Linked DNA regions of Homo sapiens: region 2 is linked to region 1. Evidence: fine-mapped expression QTL. A gene starts in region 1. The other region holds a variant in brackets. All regions are shown on one strand. Distances are between the middles of the regions. Region 1 holds the start of NAT16 (N-acetyltransferase 16 (putative)). Region 2 has its middle 7.5 kb from the start of AP1S1.

Evidence for each region. PIP is the estimated chance that this variant, and not a neighbour inherited with it, causes the effect.
Region 2: its variant is the best candidate, but not a certain one, in a credible set for the expression of NAT16 in thyroid (GTEx, PIP 0.77).

The regions. Positions count from the first base shown.
Region 1 is chr7:101,178,760-101,181,657 of GRCh38, forward strand. NAT16 (N-acetyltransferase 16 (putative)) reads right to left here and starts at 1,534. Exons shown (of 4, transcript NM_198571.3): 1 at 1,283-1,534. RefSeq lists an enhancer at 1,315-2,037 and a silencer at 1,409-1,703.
Region 2 is chr7:101,145,522-101,148,419 of GRCh38, forward strand. No RefSeq gene overlaps it. Among named protein-coding and RNA genes, the nearest start is that of AP1S1, 7.5 kb to the right of the region's middle. The variant G/A (reference allele first, on the strand shown) is at 1,610.

The DNA of each region.
Region 1 (2,898 bases):
GCATTCCTGTAATCCCAGCTACTCAGGAGGCTGAGGCAGGAGAATCGCTTCAACCCGGGAGGCCGAGATTGTGGTGAGCCGAGATCACGCTATTGCACTCCAGCCTGGGCAACAAGAGTGAAACGCTGTCAAAAAAAAAAAAAAAAAAAAAGAGGAATAACATTTCTCTCTTCATGTCTATCCCCACATCCTTGGGGACATTCTTTAAATCTCATAAATATGAATGATCTCTTTGGGGAGGGGGTGATCAGAGTCATAGCTGGGCATGATCGGAGTCAGAGCTGGGAATGCCGGCAGCCCACCCACCCGCACCCCACTCCCACCACACCCCACACACCTGAAATATCGATGCCCTTGAGGCCGATGGCTTCTTGACACTGGGGGAGGGAGGAGAGGGAGGGAAGGGAGAGCCCAGTCGCCGGAGAGGCGGAGACAAAGAAGGCAGCTGCACAAAGCGCCCAAAGATGAGAGCGAAAAGGACGGGAATGGAGGCAGAGAGCAGACAAAAGCGGACAGGAGATGCGGCCGCAGGGGACAGGCAGGGAAGCCGGAGGAGGCTTCGACACCGAATCACAGACATGACACCTCGTGACTCTGGGCCCAGCAGATGAAAAAAAAAAAATCCTAGCACGCACCCCCTCCCCTGGGACACTGTAAATAGAAAGCAGCGTGACACACCCCCTTCGCCCCGGGGTATGGGGGGCGGGGATCCGTGGAGGGGAAGGGGTCAAGGGGAAAAGAAAGTCAGAAAAAAGGCCGTAAGAGAACAACCTTGGAAACAGAGACGGGGAGAGGCGATGAAGTGGGGGCGGGAGAGAAGGCCTAGGGGGTGGGCAGAGGCAGGGGCCGAGGAAGATGGCCCAGCCAAAGGGGGTGGGGGGAGGGCCCCAGAGGGCCACAGTAGTGGAGAAGGGGGGGCTGTCCTGCAGGGTCTTCCCGAGTGAGGGTCTTCCCTCTGCCTCTACCCCGGATTGGGGGCTTGGGCTTGGGGGAGAGGGAGATTGCAAAGGGAGCGATCTGCTTGGCGGGGGTTCCCCTGGGCGCCGGACCCTGGGGACAGGTGGGAGCGACATGGCAACAGAGGGGGGCGGGGGAGCGCTTCTGGACACCTGAAGCGCAGCCTCTGACTCAGTTTTCTGGGTCTTCGGACTGGGAGGGGCTGGGCAGAAGGGGGCGCAGCCGCTTGGTCCCCCTGAGGGGCGGTGGCCTTCTGCTGCCCCATTCTGCGGTGGAGGAGCACGCTAGCCCCCTCCCCAGTCCCCAGGCCCGGCCGCCCCCCTACCTCGCCGGAGCCGGAGCTGGAGCCAGGGCCGAGATGCCGCAAAGCCAAGCGGGGCGGGCGGCGGGCGCAGACACCCCCGGTGCCAAGAGAGAGGTCCCTTTGGAGCCCCCAAGAGTCAAAGGAGGATGACGCGCGGGGACTCGGCCGCGCTGTCGGAGCCCGACTCTAACGTCGGTCAGCGCTGGGGCAGCGCCGCAGCTCCGTTGGCGACGCGGGCCGGGGCGCCCATCGGTTCAGGGGTTCGGGTGGCACGCGTGGCTCCCCCGGCGACGCTCCGGCGGCAGCTTCGAGGGGCGGAGACCCCGGCGACGCGGAAGAAACCCGGGACGGATCCGGAGCGGACTCGTGCCCTGCTGGCGGGGCCGGGGGTCGGGGTGCGCCCTGGGCAGCTGGGTGGCCTCAAGCCCTACTGGCGAGACTCCGCCCTGTGTCCCGGCTGGGGAGTGGGACTGAGGATGGTGGTGTCTCGGGTTTTGGTGGTGGTGATGCTGGTGTTGCTGGCTTAGTTATCTCCCCACCCCACGCCCAGCACCTCCGTTCTCTGTCCGGGGGTCCCCCACTGCCCTGAAGTACCCCTCCTCCAGGAGCCACCCCTCAATGGAATCTCCTCTCTCCATTATAAGAGCGGCTGGGAAGGGGACTCCGAGCCTTCGTCCCCGGAAACTGATAGAGGGAATCAGAAACCCTAGAACACCGGGAAGGCGAAGAGACATCAAGAGACAGAAGTTGAAAGGCTGAAAAGGGCAGAGGGAGGCCAAGATCTCTCCATCTTCTCACCACTGCGTGGGTGCCTGAGCACCCTGGTTCCCCGGGTGCACAAGGCCCCTAAATCCACAATGTACCCCACGGGACAGCAGGCAGAAAGACCTCCAGGTACACAGCGCACACCCAGGCACATTCACACAGACCTCTGCACTCAGGAGGCGCTGCACCCCACGCTGATCCTGGTGGCTGGGGAGGAAGAGGGAAGTGTGGAGCTGGGACCCGGGTGGGTGCAGCGCTGCCCCTGCTCTAATAAGGCGGTGGCCCAGGCTCTTAACTCCTACAAGGTTCTCCATCCCACCTATAAAGTGAGCTCAAGACTGGGTGCGGTGGCTCAAGCCTGTGATCCCAGCACTTTGGGAGGCCGAGGCGGGGGAATCACTTGAGGTCAGGAGTTCGAGACCAGCCTGGCCAACATGGTGAAACCCCGTCTCTACTAAAAATACAACAATTAGCCTGGCCTGGCCGGGCACGGTGGCTCATGCCTGTAATCCCAGCACTCTGGGAGGCCGAGGTGGGAGGATCACCTGAGGTCAGGAGTTCAAGACCAGCATGGCCAACATGGCGAAACCCCGTTTCTACTAAAAATACAAAAATCAGCCGGGCACAGTGGCCTGCACCTGTAATCTCAGCTACTTGGGAGGCTGAGGCAGGAGAATCGCTTGAACCCGGGAGGCAGAGATTGCAATGCGCCGAGATCGTGCCACTGCACTCCAGCCTGCGCGGCAGAGCGAGAATCCAACTCAAAATAAAATAAAATAATAAATAAAGTGAGATCAGAACACCTTCAGTTCTACCCTGTAAGGAGCCAGGAAAGTGATGGACAAAGCCCTTTAGCAACTGTAAACTGCTTT
Region 2 (2,898 bases), 33 kb before region 1:
CGTTTTTGGCAAGTGAAGTTTGAGATGACAATGGAATACTTACTTTATTTCATTTTATTTTTAAAAAATGGAAACCGGCTGGGTGCAGTGGCTCACACCTGTAATCCCAGCACTTTGGGAGTCCAAGCATGTGGATCACATGAGGTCAGGAGTTTGAGACCAGCCTGGCCAACATGGTGAAACCCCGTCTTTACTAAAAATACAAAAATTAGCCGGGCATGGTGGTGGGCACCTGTAAACCCAGCTACTCGGGAGGCTGAGGCAGGAGAATTGCTTGAACCCTGGAGGCGGAGGCTGCAGTGAGCCGAGATCACACCATTGCACTCCAGCTTGGGCGACAGAGTGAGGCTCCAAAAAAAAAAAAAAAAAAAGGAGGAGGAGGAGAAGGGGAAGGAAAGGAAGGAAGGAAGGAAGGAGGGAAGGAAGGAAGGAAGCAAGGAAGGAAGGGAGGGAGGAAGGAAGGAAGGAAGGAAATTGGGCATTTCAGGGAATTGCTGGGGCAGCCAGAGAACCAAATTGGAGGGAGGTCTCACACTATTGCACTAGGAACAATGCCCCACATCAAACCTGTGCCCCTGCCTGTCCTGTGGATGCAAGACACCGCTAATAGCGCCACTCCACTGCCACCCTAGGAACTTGATCCTCTGTCCTTCTGCCAGGGTCTTAACTACTTTCCATCTCCTCATGCCCACCCCAGTCTCTCCTGGAGCAAAGTCTGGCAGGTGCACAGATGGGCAGAGTCCAGCTGACATGCCCATGCTATGCCCAGAAACAACGCTGCAAAAGTGAATATCTGGAAATTGCAAATACTACTCTGGGAGGTTGGTCTATCTGCTCCCTAAATTCATAAGACATGGGATTCCCACACTCCAAGAAGGGGGGTTAGAACCTGAGTGCTGAAAAGAATGACAAACATCAACCACAGAGAGTGTTCCAGCCGGGTGTGGTGTATAGGATTACGTCTGTAATCCCAGCACTTTGGGAGGCCAAGGCAGGAAGATCACTTGAGCCCAGGAGTTTGAGACCAGCCTGGGCAACATAGCGAGACCTGGTGTCTGCAAACAATTTTTTTTTTTTTTTTTGAGACAGAGCCTCACTCTATTGCCCAAGCTGGAGTGCAGTGTCGAGATCTCAGATCATTGCAACCTCTGCCTCCCGGGTTCAAGCAATTCTCCTGCTTCAGCCTCCCAAATAGCTGGGATTACAGGTGTGCGCCATCACGCCCGGCTAATTTTTGTATTTTTAGTAGAGACAGGGTTTCACCATGTTGGCCAGGCTGGTCTTGAACTCCTAACCTCAAGTGATCCACCCACCTCGGCCTCCCAAAGTGCTGGGATTATAGGTGTGAACCACCACACCCAGCCCTACAAACAAATTTTTAAAAATAGCTAGGTATGGTGGTGCATGCCTACAGTCTCAGCTACTTGGAAGGCTGAGGCAGGAGGATCACTTGAGCCCATGAGTTTGAGGGTGCAGTGATCATGATCACACCACTGCACTCCAGCCTGGGCAAGAGAGTGAGACCCTGACTCTAAAAAAATTGAAAAAAAAAGGTGGGGAGGAACATGGATCATAGACTCACAAAGATGAGAGGCTTCAGAATCCATCT[G/A]GCCACCTCTCAACCACCGCAGGAACCACCTCTACAACCACATGAGAAAAGGCATGGGGAGGTGTCAGTGTGGTTTGTAAGATGACAGTACAAACACCATTCCTAATAGTGAAGAAGAATCTCACCTCTTCAGCTAGGTGCAGTGGCTCAGGCCTGTAATCCCAGCACTTTGGGAGGCCGAGGCGGGTGGATCACTTGAGGTCAGGAGTTTAAAACCAGCCTGGCCAACATGGTGAAACCCCGTCTCTACTAAAAATACAAAAGTTAGCCAGGTGTGGTGGCATGCGCCTGTAATCCCAGCTACGCAAGAGGCTGAGGCAGGAGAATTGCTTGTACCCAGGAGGCGGAGGTTGCAGTGAGCTGAGATCGCGCCATTGCACTCCAGCCTGGGTGACAGAGCGAGACGCCATCTCAAAAAAAAAAAAGAGAAGAAGAAGAATCTCACCTCTTCCATGTTTCCATTTATACAAGTGGCACCACTAACCCTCCAGGATTTTTCTCCCTTCCTCTCTACTTAGATGATGATCAGCTTCAGATCACCAGCTCCTTTGAGGCATCTCTCCTGATTTGTCCCTCGCATTTCATCCTGGAGTCAGGATTCCCAAAACTCTCAGACGATCTTTCAGCTTTCCAATTGTCCTTTCAAATTCTTCCACATATGACTATAAGATTAATCTTTTTTTTTCTGAGACAGGGTATCGCTCTGTCACCCAGGCTGGAGTGCAGTGGAAAAATCGACTCACTGCAGCCTCTACCTCCTGCACTCAAGCGATCCTCCCACCTCAGCCTCCTAAGTAGCTGGGACCACAGGCACGTGCCACCATGCCTGGCTAATTTTTTTTATTTTTTCTAGAAACAGGGTCTTCGTTGCCCAGGCTGGTCTCAAACTCCTAAGCTCAAGCAATTCTGCCACCTCAGCCTCCCAAAGTGCTGGGCTTACGAGCCTGAGCCACCATGTGCCTGGCCAAGATTAACTTTATTAACACTGTTTTCACCAAGTTATTCACTGGTTCACACAACCATAATGACCCTAAACTGCCAACTGCATCAAATCTCAATTCATCTCCATGCACAAGCTGTATCGGATCAACTAACTCATAGATCCTCCACATTCATCATTCACTAACAATGAAGAAATCCAAGTTGGGTGTCGTGGCTCACGCCTGTAATCCCAGCACTTTGGGAGGCCAAAGCAGGTGGATAACTTGAGGTTAGGAGTTCGAGACCAGCCTGGCCAATATGGTGAAACCCTGTCTCTACTAAAAATACAAAAAAATTAGCTGGGTGTG